Linked DNA regions of Homo sapiens. The protein of the gene in region 2 interacts with the protein of the main gene of each other region in a pairwise test. Each region holds a gene or a part of one and is shown on either strand. Other genes may lie near its edges.

Region 1 (7,412 bases), on a different chromosome or scaffold from region 2:
TGTGACGCCACACCTGGCTAATTTTGTATTTTTAGTAGAAATGAGGCTTCACCATGTTGGCCAGACTGGTCTTGAACTCCTGGTCTCATGATCCACCTCAGTTTCCCAAAGTGCTGGGATTACAGGTGTGAGCCACCACACCTGGCCCTGATTTCCAAATGTTAAAGGTTTCTAAAAAGCAAACTAACCCACTTATTGTAAACTCATCAAGCATTTAATGGCTATAATGGCATAAGTGTGCCTCTTGCATTTCTGCTGCTCTCTTCAGACACATACACTCCACCACTCCTCATAACTGAAAAAGCTCCAGATTATACCTGAAAATTGGCGACAATGCCCATTCCGAAACATCCCACCAATCCAAGCACTAAAGACACCAAGTTAAAAACAGGAGTGCTGAAATAGCAGGTTTGATTTTGCTTCTGTACTATTTTGTATCTTGTATACATCGTGGCTGCACCTGAAAAAGAAGAGAACTTTGATGAATGTTCATAATTTGATGTCTTTAGGATGAAAAACAGGAGCAGCTTTGTATCACTTTTTAAAAATGTACTGATTGCAAGTCTCCCCACTTTCCCACCCCTGTCCCTCCTGACTCCATCTTACTCTCTCCCCAGCATGTACAGACACACACACACACACACACACACACACACACACACACACACACACCCCTTGGCTGTTGTCCTTTTCATGTAAATGCTATTATAGTACATGTATTACTCTGTGACTTGCTTTTTCCATTTAACAGTGTACCATGGAGATCTTTTCAAGCAAGTACAAACAGATCTACTTCATTGTTTTCAGGGATCTTATCATGGTCTGTGGTATGAGATACTATATTTATTCCTCATTCTCCTAAGAATGAATTTCTACATTGTTTCCATGTTTTTCCTGCTACAAACAACACGCCATGAATATCCTTGTATATAAATCTTTGGGTTTCTGAAAGACCAGTTCCTAGAAGTAATATTACTGGGTCAAAAAACCATGCACAATTAGAAACACCTCCAAATTGCTCCAGCCCGTTGACGATTTAGACTCCCACCAGCAGAATTTGCGAGCAATTGTGTATGCCCTTGCCTTTTTAATTCTGTCAGTCTAATAAATGAAAATTCAACCTGTTGGGTTAGTTTGCATTTCTCTGATCATTAGCAAGATTTAGCAACTTTCAGTATATCTACTGGTCATTTGCATTTCTTCTTCTGAGAAATGCATGTTTACAATTTTCTTTTTATTCTTCTCTTGGGCTTGTCGATATCTAATTTGTAGTTACTTTTTACACATTATGTCCATTAGTCTATTATCTGCTATAAATATTACAAATTTTCTTCTGCTCTGCTATTTGTCTTTTAACATTGTATCTTGTATCTTACATCATTTGAAAGTTTTAATTTTTAATCTACTCATATCTATCAATTCTTCTGCGTTTTGTGTTTCTATTCCAAGGTTTAAAAAATATTCTCCTGTAATTTAATTATTGCATAGTTTTGCTTTTCATGTCTATTAAATTGCAATTGGTTTTTGTGTATGATGTGAGGAGGATAGTAAAGGTATGTTTTTCCAAATAGCTAGTCAATTAACCAAATACCATTTGTTGTAATTTGGCAATAAAATGTAGCCTCCATGAGAGCAGGGCTCTTGTCTGTTTTGTTGGCTGTTGTAAACTCAACACTAAGTCATAAACAAGCACAAACCCTATCATATAGTACATACTTAGTAAATGTTGAATAAATAAATAGCTACCATAATTTTAGATACATATTCCCTTTAACTCAGCAAATTTATCTTATAGAAAAACTCACACAAATATGCAAAGATATATTTAAAAGATGTTCACTTCAACATTAGAATTACAAAATACCAGAAATAGCCTAAATGTTGGACAATAGGGAACTGATTAAATAAATGATAATACATCCTTGTGAAAGATATCATGCATGTGTGGAAAGGATAAAGTAGATGTGTATATATTTACATAGTATGACGGCCATAATCTATTCCTGAATTTTTAAAAAGCAGGCTAAAAACTAATAACTTATCATAAATCTTTTTTTTTTTTTTTTTTTGTGGAGACAGGGACTTGCTCTGTCACCTGGGTGGGAGTGCAGCGGCACAGTCATGGTTCACTGCAGCCTTGACCTCCTGGGCTCAGGCAATTCTTCCACTTTATCCTTCCAAGTAGCTGGAACTACAGGCACACATCACCACACCCAGCTAACTTCTTTTTTCTTTCTTTCTTTCTTTTTTAACTTTTTGTAGAGATGAGATCTCACTACATTGCCCAGGCTGGTCTTGAACTCCTGGGCTCAACAGATCCTCCTGCTTCAGCCTCCCAAAATGCTAGAATTACAGGCATGAGCTCACATAGACTATTTCAAATGAATATATTTGTCAGTTTCTGCTTTATTCAGAAGCAAAAGCCGTATTTATCACTTGCTGTGATAAAATAATCTCTCTGTTTTCCAAGTCTGGATTCTTGGCAAGGATGGTGTAAGAGGGCACTGGGATTGACTGACTCCATATTGCTACTTCCCCTTGCTCACCTCCAAAACTTTAGGAGGACTACAAATGGTGATGCGGTGAAACTTTCCTGCTACCAAGTAGGATGAACAAATTCCAAAATGCCAAGTCACTAAGTAGGGTCAGCATCACTGTCCCTTCTCACACTGTACCAGTAGAGAGGAACAGAAAGCGTTGGTTACAAGATAGGCCCTTGGCAAACACTTGATTGTTTGGGGGGAGATTATAGAAGGACTAAGAGAAAATGCCCCACATCTGATATCTATATACTTGAATCACCTTATAGAAGACTGAGCTTTACATTAATTATACAATAGTTGTAATTAATATGCATTACATTAATTGGCTTATGACAAGGTTGCACCCTATCATCTGCATCTTAGGTACATCTGAGGAACTGAAAAGAAAAATCATACTATTCCTTGCTCCACCTGTCCCCTTTCTCTAACAGGTAAGATAATGCCTTTGTCAATGGTCCTCAAACTTTAGTGAGAAACCAAGTCCCCTAGAGTGCTTGTTTACAACACATCTTCAGGAACCCACACTCCCAAAGGTTCTGGTTGAGTAGCATGGCCCAGGAACCTGCATTTTACGAGAACTCCAGGTGACTTTTCATCAGCTTGCCTTCAGAATACACTTTGAGAAACTTAGCTTACGCATTGGGTGTCTTTGGCTTACATAAGTGTCTTGACCATAAATCAACACTTTTAAAAACTAAATTGCACTTAAAATCCGTTCCAGAAGTTTGGTATTTAAAACCACCTACAGCAAATCCTGTTACAAATTACTAATTAAAGTATAGTTCTCTAATAAAGCCATAATTTTTTATATCTTTTAACTTCAGTTTCTCAAAATAGGACAAAAATCTAGCTGCAAAGATTGTGCTTTTAAAAAAATTATACACAAGGCCGTGTGCAGTGGCTCACACCTATAAGTTCAGCACTTTGAGAGGCCAAGGCAGGTGGATCACTGAAGCCCGGGAGCTCAAGGCCAGCCTGGCAACATGGTGAAACCCCATCTCTACAAAAAACTACAAAAAATTAGCTGGGCGTGGTGGTGTGCACCTGTAGTACCAGCTACTCCGGAGGCTGAGGTGGGAGGACTGCTTGAGCCTGGCAGGTTGAGGCTGCAGTGAGCCGTGATCACGCCACTGCACTCCAGCCTGGATGACAGAGACCCTGTCTCAGAAAAAATAAATAAAATAAAATAAAAATTATATGAAAACTACAAATGACACATCAACTTCACTTGGAATTGTGAGCTTTTCAATTATTTATAATAATTATTGTGTACTTACCAAGAAATGCAGAGAAGTTTATCATAAATCCAAAAATACCACTCTCTGGAGGTGTTGTTCCCGTATCACTGGCAAAGGGAAGAAATGTCCAAATTATTAGAAAGAAATTCTGTCCAGACCTCTGGGAAGACACGTAATTGGCGAGTTTTATATTCTGTTTCTTTTAGGTGTTCAGCCACTTTGAATTCCAAAGATTTGGCCTGATTTTGTTCTAAAGTATTTTCATTTTGGCTCTGAAAAATCTAAAATTTATTTTTATACCATGAGAGATTCCATAGTAAAAAGCCAGAAAATGTTTAAAATGAATGGTGCTGCCATTTTTCAAATGATCGAACCCACTAACCTTGGTATGTGTTCCTTCTCAGTGAAGAATGACTACTTTGAAAAAGAAAAACAAAAACAAAAAAAAAAGATCTAAAATCATGTTTGAGGCCGGGTGCAGCGGCTCACACCTGTAATCCCAGCACTTTGGGAGGTGGAGGTGGGAGGATCACCTGAGGTCAGGAGTTCAAGACCAGCCTGGCCAACATGGTAAAACCCCCATCTCTACTAAAAATACAAAAATTAGCCTAGCATGGTGGCAGGTGCCTGTAGTCCCAACTACTTGGGAGGCTGAAGCAGGAAAATCTCTTGAACCAGGGAGGCGGAGGTTATGGTGAGCCGAGATCATGCCACTGCATTCGAGCCTGGGCAACAGAGCAAGACTCGGTCTCAAAAAAAAAATAAAAATAAATCGCGTTTGAAAATTCTAATATTGGCATGTTAAATACACATAAACACATCACTTTATTTTCTAATAATTGAGATTTTATTATCTGCTGAAAATATTATGATAAAAATCTGAGGCCGGTCACGGTGGCTCACGCCTGTAATCCCAGCACTTTGGGAGGCTGAGGCGGGCGGATCACCTGAGGTCAGAAGTTCGAGACCAGCCTGACCAACATGGAGAAGCCTCATCTCTACTAAAAATACAAAATTAGCCGGCCATGGTGGCACATGCCTGTAACCCCAGCTACTCAGGAGGCTGAGGCAGGAGAATCACTTGAACCCAGGAGGCGGAGGTTGCGGTGAGCCGAGATCACACCATTGCACTCCAGCCTAAGCAACAACAGTGAAACTCTGTCTCAAAAAAAAAAAAGAAAAAGAAAACTGAACAATATTATTGATCTCTAGGAATACTTTATGGAAATAATAGGGTATCTAGGGTATATTAATTGTGGTAAATTATTTTAACAAAAAAGGGTTTCTGTAAAACATTTTTCAGGTACAGTCTTTCAATTAATTAAATGAGTTGGAAAATACTGTTTGACATGTTCTTTTTTTTTATTTTTTAGAGACAGGGTTTTGCTATGTTACCCAGGCTGGTTTTGAAGTCCTGAGCTCAAGCAATCCTCTTGCCTCAACCTCCGAAAGTGCTGGGATTACAGGTGTAAGCCACCATGTCTGGCCAACATGTTCTATTTTCTATTAGTGCCAAGCTTTAATTTTTTTCATTTTCAGGCTGCTCACTTTAAAACTGATGGCAAAAGAGCTCCCAACATGAAACAACTTGAACTCATTTTGAGTGTTTCTACATTTGTAAACAGCTCTGAAATTTAAGTATTAAAAAACCGATCACGTTGAAAATGATGCACTTGTAAGTGTTTGAAGAATTCCACAAGGAGCCTGTGTGTGCAGAAAACAGGAATTTTTTAAGTTTTGCGAACACTTAGTATTTAAACTGGAGTATAAAGAAGTTAATAGGGCCGGGCACAGTGGCCCACGCCTGTAATCCCAGCACTTTCGGAGGTCGAGGCAGGTGGATCACCTGTGGTCAGGAGTTCGAGACCAGCCTGACCAACATGATGAAATCCCATCTCTACTAAAAAATACAAAAATTAGCTAAGCATGGTGGTGGGTGCCTGTAATCCCAGCTACTCAGGAGGCTGAGGCAGGAGAATCGCTTGAACCCAGGAGGCAGAGGTTGCAGTGAGCCAAGATTGCGCCATTGCACTCCAGCCTGGGCAACAGAGCAAGACTCCGTCTCAAAAAAAAGAAAAAGAAGTTAATAGCCTCCCTTACGACCAGGCGCGGTGGTTCACACCTGTAATCCCAGCACTACGGGAGCCCGAGGCAGGTGGATCACGAGGTCAGGAGTTCAAGACCAGCCTGGCCAACATGGTGAAACCCTGTCTCTACTAAACATATAAAAAATTAGCCAGGCGCGGTGGCAGACGCCGGTAATCCCAGCTAATCCGGAGGCTGAGGCAGGAGAATCGCTTGAACTCAGAGGGCGGAGGTTGCAGTGAGCCGAGATCGTGCCACTGTACTCCAGTCTGGGTGACAGAGTGAGACTCCTTCTCAAAAAAAAAAAAAAAAAAAAAATAGCCTCCCTTACAGCAAATGCCTTTATTCCAAATTAATTCAATTTCAATGTCACTGGTATTGCAAGAACCTGAAGGGTTTAGGATTTAGGCTGGGTATAGTGGCTCATGCCTGTAATTCCAGGACTTCTGTGGGCCGAGGCGGGAAGATCACTTGAGCTCAGGAGTTCGAGACCAGCCTGGCCAACATGGTGAAACCCTGTTTCTACTAAAAATACAAAAATTAACTGGGCATGGTACAGCGTGCCTGTAATCCAAGCTACTCGGGAGACTGAGGCAGGAGAATCACTTGAACCCAGGAGGTAGAGTTTGCAGTGAGCTGAGATCACGCCACTGCACTCCAGCCTGGGTAAAAAAAAAAAAAAAAAAAAAAAAAAAAAACCTGAAGGGTTTCGAATTTAGCATTACCACTTTTCCTACAATAACCATTTTTCACACTACAGGAATGTTGAGGTGGAGGATGCCCTTCTGAGCACAATGCTGAATGGGCAGAGAGACAGGAATGGGAACCAGTAATGGGGAAAAAAGCAGAGACAGCTCATAACCTTGGGCAGCACTTTTGCCACACAATTAACTCTGCCAGGGAAATCAGGCCTCCCTGCCTTGGCCTGAGGGTATAAAAAAGCAGGCACCAGGTGACTCATCCTAGAGTTCTTGTTACACAGGTCTGAGAATAATTCTGAACCTCAGACAGCCACATGCCAGGCATCGGAGCAAACACAGAGGAGAAGCGCTGGGAAGAAGGTTGTTTGCCTGTCTGTGGAGAAAGGGAAGGCAATGAAAGAATGAGGAGGATATTTAGGAAGATAGGGAGGTGGCGATATGAAGGTGCTCTAGGTGCTCTGACTGAAGAGAAGACCAGACCTGGGGACTCTGTCTATTGATGGCAAATTGAGACTATGTCAAAGGCCCAGGTGTGGAGTCCACATGACATCAAACACGTGATCTGAAAACTTGGAATTCCAGGGTCGTGTTCTATTCTTGCTTATCTGTACATTTAAAACCATACAGGTGGAGGCCAGGCACGGTAGCTCACACCTGTAATCCCAGCATTTTGGGAGGCCGAGGAGGATGGATCACTTGAGCTCAGGAGTTCGAAACCAGTCTGGGCAACATGGTGAAACCCTGTCTCTACAAAAAATACAAAAATTGGCCGGGTGTGGTAGCTCATGCCTGTAATCCCAGCACTTTGGGAGGCTGAGACGGGTGGATCACTTCGGGTTAGGAGT
Region 2 (8,292 bases):
AGTAACCTGGAGGCCCCGGTCCTCAATATGGGGTGCTTAAACCCTGGGCTCCGTTTAGTCCAGATCCCGCAGGCAGTTGGGAAGCGCCTGGTGGGAGGAACAGTGGCAGGGGAGGGTGGGGTGCTGTCCAGCCCTGGCTCTGCTCCTGGCTTGCTCTGTGGCTTTTATGCCACCCACATTCTCTCTGGGCCTCATGATCACATGGTCCAATTGGTGGCTTGGACCAGTGACTGGGCTCCCACCCTCCCTGGGCCTCACCAGCCCAATAGGGTGAAGACAGAGCCAGAACTCAGACCCTCCCCTGCTCACAATTCCTTTCAGCCTTGGACCTCAGGGTTCAGAGCCAAGATGCAGACGATATAGTCCCTTTTCAGGACTCCTAAGCCCTAAGACCTCAGTGTCACCCAATGTCAGAGCCCTCAGAGAGGGAAGGAGCAGGGGGAGAAGTGGAGGCCCCAACTGTCACCCTGCTAAGTGGGTAAGCGAGGACTGGACAGTGTGTGTCAGGGGGAACATGGCTGAGGGACAGGCTTGGCCAAAGTCACCTCACAGGACATAGCCAGACTCACACAGGGTCCCCTGACCATCTCCTCTGCCCCTTAGAAGGTAGGGCTTTAGGGCCATGGTTGCCAGGCTATGCCTGGGTGGCTCCCAGCTGTGCCACGGTACCTGTCCACTCCTAGCAGGGATTTGATTTCAGGCCCTGGGCTGGGTGCCCAGAACAGGGCAGGGCTGGTGGATGGAAGATCATTCTGGGACAGTGGAAAGGGGCCCAGCCTGAACTGGGTCTCCCTCCCAGAAGGTGTAAGGGGTGGAAGGAGTCTGACAATATGAAGGGCAAACAGTGGTCCCAGCTCCCGCTCAGGGAGCCCCAGAGAAGGAAGCTGGGGGATGAGGAGCAGAAGAGGGGAGAAATGAGCCACATGAGGCTGATCCGGGGCTCCAGCTGAGGGAGCTGAGCCATCAATAATTCAGCTTCTGAGATCGGTTTCTGGCTTTAATTAACCAAGGGCCTCTTCAGCCATCCCTGCCAAGTCTGGTGACCTCCAGCCCCTGAGAGGGAGTGGGAAGCAAAGGGTGGCATTCTTGCCTCTACTCCGCCAGGAACCCGCCTTGTGACCCTCTCTGGGCCTGGAGGGTGCAGTAGGCAGGCACTGAGGATGTCTCCTGAGCAACTCGAGCCACACACCCTCACCTCCAAGGACAAGTCCCGAGGGGTGACCTTGAGTTCCCAGAACTGGCAATGGGGAGGAGGGATGGGAACTGTCATTTCTTGATTGCCTTCAGTGAGTCAGACACTGAAGTGGGCACTGTACAGCTTCTCATAAAACCTGCAGAGCAACTCTATGAGAAAGGCATCATCCAACCCATTTCACAGATGCGGAGACAGGCTCCGAGGGAGAAGGCGCAGGGCCGAGGTCACAGAGCATGTCAGTGCCTGAGCCCAGAGCTGTCTTCCCCTGCACCTCTGCTCCTCCCACTGCCCCGTCTCCAGGGAGTACTCACCTGTTGTGACTGTCTTCGGTTCATAGGTGGGGTGGTGGTGAGCAGCTGAGGAGACAGGTGATCCATAGCAAAGCAGCCTTCCCACCCCCTGACTCCCATCAAGACCCCAGCCCCCACTCACCGCTAAACTTCCGATTCAGATGCAGCCCTGTCCCTACTCTAGACATCCAACATACTTGCAAGCCCCACACAGTTCCCTCCACCAGATGTGCTCTCTCTCCATCTCTACCTTCCAGGCTCATTACTGATGCCACCTCCTCCAGGAAGCACTCCCTCTCATTCCCTCTGAACTTCCAAAGTCCTTGCTATGCCTTAAACTAGAAGAAGAGCTAACACTCCCATCCCCTCCACACACCTGTACTAATTTTCAGATGAGGAAATAGGCAGAGAGAGGAGGGGACTTCTCAGTGAGCTAAAGGCAGAACTGATACCGGGCCCAGGTATGGGTGAGCAAAATCCACCGCCTGAGAGAGGCTGTTTCCTCCTGGGGGGCAGGCTATGGCTGGGGAGACCCATGCAACTTGGCTTAGGTGCAAGAACCCCCTTACCTGGACATGCCTCTGAGCGGTTGTAGATGGAGCAACCTTCCTTGACCACCTCAGATTGGGCCACACAGTGTCCTGGTGAGAGAAGGTGCAGGGGGGAGGTTTGGGGAGAGGGGCCAGGGCCTTGGGGTTCAGAGCTGGGGGCACTCAATCTGGGGAGGGCTCAGCTCCATACCTGGCTCCTCTGGCCGGCACTGCTCCCACACGCAGCTGGAGAGATTGCGCGCTCCGTCTCCCTCCACGCAGTGCTCACAGACCTCCAGCTGTTTGCAGGCCCCTTGGACCGCCGGCCAGATATTCAGGCGGATCAGGGCTCCCCTCCCAAAGCCTCGAGCTCCTTTACCTGGTAGTGCGGTGGAGTGGGAAGGGAGAATTCCTCGAAGCCAAGCTGTGGCACCCGCCCACCCTCCCACCCAACACTCCGGTGGCCCTCGCCCCTCTGCACACATCTGGGCTCTCACACTCACCCCTGGATCCCCAAGCCCCAGCGCACACCTGGAGCTTCCACAGCAGAGGTCTACACACACCTAGAGCCTCCCCACATTCACCCAGAGCCCCTCCCTTTGCATACACCCGGGGTTCCCAGATTCAGTTGGAGCCACCTCCCCCAGACCACCTGAAGCTCCCTAGGCCCCCACACCTGGGGCCTATATTTACACACAGGGCTCCACACAGAGCTGGAGCCCCCTCTCCCACCCCTGGAGGCCTGCACTTGGCCGGAAAGCCCCCTCCCCTCAAGCCCAGGCTGCTCCTGGGGAGACGGCTGGCTGAGGTGCAAGCTCCATCCGTCCCCGTCGAGCCCCTAGCCAGACCCTGCCGCGAGTTACCAGCCACAGCCAGCTGGGCACATAGGAGGAGGCAGCAACAGCCGCCACAGAGCGCAGTCCGCAAGGCGCGGGGTCCCGGAGCCTCCATGGGCTCGCGGGGTGGGGGTGGCCGGGGGCGGTGGCCGGGATCGGTGGACAGCTGCCGGGCGCGTCCCTCCCAGACTGGGCTCGGCTGAGCGTGTGCGGAGCGAGACCTGGGCAACCGGGGCGTGGCCAGGTGGGGGCGTGGCCAGTGGGAGCGGCAGGTGGGGCGGGGCTCGTCGGTCGGGGCGGAGCCAGGTGAAGGCGGGGCCAGTTAGGGGCGTGGCTAGTGTGCGCGGCCAGGTGAGTTCGGGGGTCTGGGGCGGGGCTTGGACTAAAGCAGGTGGGGTCCAGGACTGGTGGCTGGCGTGGTTACTATGTGCCTCCAAGGGCAGCTTCTTGAAAATTCTGGAAAGTACCGACTGCTTTGATCCTTACTTCACAGGTGAGGAAACTGAGGCTCAGACAAGATGAGTGACTCGTTCGAGGTCACGGAGAGAGGCAGTGGCAAAAATCTGGATTCGAGACGAGGTCACTTCCCTGCCTTCAGGGCTCGGTGCAGGCCCCGCTTTGTACACCCTCCACCCAGGCCCCATGACCGCTGGGCCGGGCCCTAGCTGGCCCCTGCCCTCTGGCTGCCCAAGCTTAGCTTCGGTGCTCCCTCTCCATTCACTGCACCCCTCCACCCGCCTCCCTTCTGCCCCTCATCCGCTGTGTCTGCCTCTGGCCTACCACACCCTCTGGCCAGGTCAGGGGTGACGCCATTACTAGGCCAACTGGGCCTCTCCGCAGCCTTCCCCACGGCTACCACTCCTGCCCTGGCACCAGCCTCTTTTGGTTCTCCTCAGGCTCCTTAGGGGGCACTTCCTCTCCTTCCTCTTCCTCCTCCCCTCCTCTCCCCTCCTTCCCCCATCTGCTTCTCCTAACCCTCTCTTAATCGATGGTGGCCCAGGTTAGTCCCAAGCCCTGTTCCACACTCTCCTGGGGTCATCCTGGACATTCCACTGCCATCAGTCCCCACTTGAAACCCAACAGCTGAGGCAGGAGGATTGCTTGAGCCCAGGGATTTGAGGCTGTAGTGAGCTGTGATCATGGCATTGCACTCCAGCCTGCGCAACAGAGTGAAACCCTGTTTTAAATGAATGAATGAATGAATGCCAACAGGTCACGTATCCCAATAAATATATACACCCACTATGCACCCATTAAAAAAATTTTTTTTGAGCCAACAGATCTCTTAATCATCTCCAGGCCAGTTCTGACTTCACAACTGCCACACCTGTAACTGACAATATATAGCTAGCAATTATTGACCCCTTACTAGCCGAATGTACATTTTGAGAGCTTTTACATGCAACTTCCCATCTAATGTCCACAGCTACCCTCTAGGCATGAGTTTTGTCATTTCCCATTTGCAGGCTGCTCAGGGGCACAGGGTTTCAATGCAGCAGGCCAGGATGTAAAGCTAGGATTGAATGATGCTGGAGGCCATGCTCCCTCTGCTGTGCCTCCCATGGGTCCACGGCATCTCCACCTGAGTGTCCCTGAGGCCCCCAAAACTGCCCACTCAGGGGAAAAGAGACCCTTCGGGTTCTGGGGGAGGGAGGAGGGATAGCATTAGGAGATATACCTAACGTAAATGATGAGTTAATGGGTGCAGCACACCAACATGGCACATGTATACATATGTAACAAACCTGCACATTGTGCACATATACTCTAGAACTTAGAGTATAATAAAATATATATATTATATATATAAAAAAAGAAAATGTGGCACATATACACCACGGAATACTATGCAGCCATAAAAAAGGATGAGTTCATGTCCTTTGCAGGGACACGGATGAAGCTGGAAATCATCATTCTCAGCAAACTATCACAAGGACAGAAAACCAAACACTGCATGTTCTCACTCATAAGTGGGAATTGAACAATGAGATCACTTGGACACAGAGGGGGAACAGCACACACCAGGGCCTGCTGGGGGGTGGGGGGCTTGGGGAGGGATAGCTTTAGGAGAAATACCTAATGTAAATGATGAGTTGATGGGTGCAGCAAACCAACATGGCGCATGTATACCTATGTATCAAACCTGCACGTTGTGTACATGTACCCTAGAACTTAAAGTCTAATAAAAAAATAAAATAAAAATAATAAAAAATAAAATTAATTAATTAATTTTAAAAAGTCCTTCAGGTTCTGTCCCCTTGTATTCCCTCTGTACGCCTCACTGCATCTCAGCAGCTTCCAGGCCCCTCCTATGCTGGCCCTCACAAATCATATATTTGACCATATCTCTTCCAGTTAGCAACTTTTTTTTTGAGCCTGAGTCTCACTCTGCTGCCCAGGCTGGAGTGCAGTGGCACAGTCTCAGCTCACTGAAACCTCCACCTCCCAGGTTCAAGGGATTCTTGTGCCTCAGCCTCCCAAGTAGCTGAGATTCTGAGATTACAGGCACCCGCCACCATGCCCGGCTAATTTTTTGTATTTTTAGTAGAGACAGGGTTTCACCATGTTAGCCAGGATGGTCTTGATCTCCTGACCTTGTGATCCGCCCGCCTCAGCCTTCCAAAGTGCTGGGATTACAGGCATGAGCCACCGTGCCCGGCCAATTTTCTGTATTTTTAAAGTTGAGACAGGGTTTCACCATGTTGGTCAGGCTGGTCTCGAACTTTTCTTTTTTGAGAGGGAGTTTCGCTCTTGTTGCCCAGGCTGAAATGCAATGGTGCAATCTCAGCTCACCGCAACCTCTGCCTCCCGTGTTGAAGCAATTCTCCTGCCTCAGCCTCCCAACTAGCTGGGATTACAGGCATGTGCCACCACGCCCAGCTAGTTTTGTATTTTCAGTAGAGACAGGGTTTCACCATGTTGGTCAGGCTGGTCTCGAACTCCTGACCTCAGGTGATCTGCCTGCCTCGGCCTCCCAAAGTGCTGGGATTACAGGCGTGAGCCACCGTGCCCGGCCAGTTTCGAACTTTTGACCTCAAATGATTCACCCACCTTGACCTCCCAAAGTGCTGGGATTACAGGTGTGAGCCACCATGCCTGGCCCCACCTAACAACTTTTCAACAATGGCTTGACCTCCACAACCCTTTGATTTCTGGCTCTAGAAGTCTCTCTATCCTGGCCTGGGTGCTTCCCATCACCTTCCTACCCTCTAAGAAGATAGAACAGAGCCTTCCCCCTATACCTCTCTTCCTCTATCCTAGCTGTTCTCTCTCCTAGAGGGTCCTCCTCAACCTTGGACTTCATTTGCCTGGCAAACTAATTCTTCAAGACACCACTACAAGACCACCTCCTGCAGGAAGCCTTCTGTGACTGTCACAGAATGAGGCTGAGCTGCTGCAGCACTTAGCTAGAGATCTAAATCCATCTGCTTTTTCCACTTCAGAGCCCTCCCCATCTCTTGCCTGAATGACTGCAGTGGCCTTCTAGTGGGGCTCCTGCTCCCCATTCCAGTCTGTTCTGCACTCAGCAGTCAGAGTGACCCTTTGATAACGTGTCAGTTCAGATCATAACACTTCCCTCCCACCAATGGCGTCTGTCTCACTGATCTGGGATTTCAGGCGCCCGCTGCCACACCTGGCTAATTTTTTGTATTTTTAATAGAGACGGGGTTTCATCATATTGACCAGGCTGGTCTCGAACTCCTGACCTCAGGTGATCCACCCGTCTTGGCCTCCCAAAGTGCAGGAATTACAGGCATGAGCCGCTGTGCCCAGCCAGATGTTTATTAAGTAACCTTACTGTACCATGTTGTGACAATCTGTGTACATGTTTGTCTGTCCCACCGGTCTGTAAGCCCCCAAGAGCTCCCTTCTGTCTCACATGATCTTGCCTCTGCCCACCTCGCCTCTCCTCCCTCTCCCCTTTGCTGATTTAGCTGCAGACACACTAGCCTCCTCTCTCTGGTCCTCACACCCATCAATGCTTTCTCTTCTTGGGGACTTTACACTTGTCGTGTCCTCTCCTTAAGACTCCTGTTCTCTCTTCACGTGACTTGTTCCATGACCTCCCTCCCTAAAAGAGGCCACCTGGTGATCCTACATCCCAACAGCTGCTCTTTTCTTCAGAGCAGGTAGCTAATGTATAATTAATTACTCATTTGTTTCCTAGGCTGTAAGCTTCATGAAGGCAGGAACCATGTTGATCTTCCCTCCTTAGTGAACTCCTTGCACACAGTAAGGGCTGAATAGATGTTGGGGTTTTTGTTTGTTTGTTTGTTGAGACGGAGTTTCGCTCTTGCTGCCCAGACTGGAGTGCAGTGGTGATCTCGGCTCACTGCAACCTCCGCCTCCCAGATTCAAGTGATTCTCCTGCCTCAGCCTCCTGAGTAGCTGGGATTACAGGTGCCTGCCACTATGCCTGGCTAATTTTTTGCATTTGTGGTAGAGACAGGATTTCATCACGTTGGCCAGGCTGGTCTCGAACGCCTGACCTCAGGTGATCCACCCACCTCGGCCTCCCAAAGTGCAGGAATTATGGGCGTGAGCCACCATGCCCAGCCAGATGTTTATTAAGTAACCTTACTTACTATGCCATGTTGTGACCATCTGTGTACATGTTTGTCCCACTGGTCTGTGAGGCCCCCAAGAGCTCCCTACTTGAATAGATTTTAAGGATCTATTTGTAGATTGTCCATCCCTCCAGATTAAAACTGAAGCTTGGCCTGGCACAGTGGCTCATGCCTGTAATCCCAGCACTTTGGGAGGCCGAGGTGGGCAGGTCACCTAAGGCCAGGAGTTCGAGACCAGCCTGGCCAACATGGTGAAACCCTGTCTTTACTAAAAAATACAAAAATTAGCCAGGCGTGGTGGCATGCATCTGTAGTCCCAGCTACTCGGGAGGCTGAGGCAGGAGAATCGCTTGAACCCGGGAGGCGGAGGTTGCAGTGAGCTGAGATTGCACCACTGCACTCCAGCCTGGGCAACAGAGCAAGACTATGTCTCAAAATAACTAACTAAATAAATTAATTAATAAAACTGAAGCTCATTGAAGATGGCAGGGATTTTTGTTCACTGCTGTATTCTCTGTACCCGGGAAATAGAAGATGCTCAATAAATGTGTCTATTGACTGTTGAAAAGGCAGGAATTTGGCCAGATCATCTTTCTGTCCCTAGCACCCACTGAACAAACCCTAAGCCCAGGGGAACTGCCAGTAAATAATGGCTGAATGAATGGGTCTATGCTAAGAATATGGGCACTGATGATGCCTAGACCCTTGGGTCTTAGACAAGGGACTCAGGTGTGGGGATTATCTATGACTGACACACACACACACACACAAGCACACACGCACGAACACCCCCTCCCCGCCAATTCCTCCCTCCCCAAGGGATTTCTCCAACTGGTGAAGACAGAAGAGGCAAGGATAAAAGTCTCACCTGGA

Evidence for each region. Proteins that work in one complex are often made in the same cells at the same time.
Region 1: the proteins of CD164L2 (region 2) and DRAM1 interact in binary tests that used the Homo sapiens proteins (3 or more experiments, as listed by UniProt).

What each region holds. Positions count from the first base shown.
Region 1 is NC_000012.12:101,894,339-101,901,750, reverse strand, and holds part of DRAM1 (DNA damage-regulated autophagy modulator protein 1), read right to left. Parts: intron 3,889-7,412; coding exon 3,821-3,888; intron 461-3,820; coding exon 318-460; intron 1-317. UniProt on the Homo sapiens protein: Lysosomal modulator of autophagy that plays a central role in p53/TP53-mediated apoptosis. Not involved in p73/TP73-mediated autophagy.
Region 2 is NC_000001.11:27,380,274-27,388,565, forward strand, and holds the start of CD164L2 (CD164 sialomucin-like 2 protein isoform 1 precursor), read right to left. Parts: upstream 3,061-8,292; 5' UTR 2,967-3,060; coding exon 2,879-2,966; intron 2,395-2,878; coding exon 2,227-2,394; intron 2,127-2,226; coding exon 2,055-2,126; intron 1,552-2,054; coding exon 1,507-1,551; intron 1-1,506.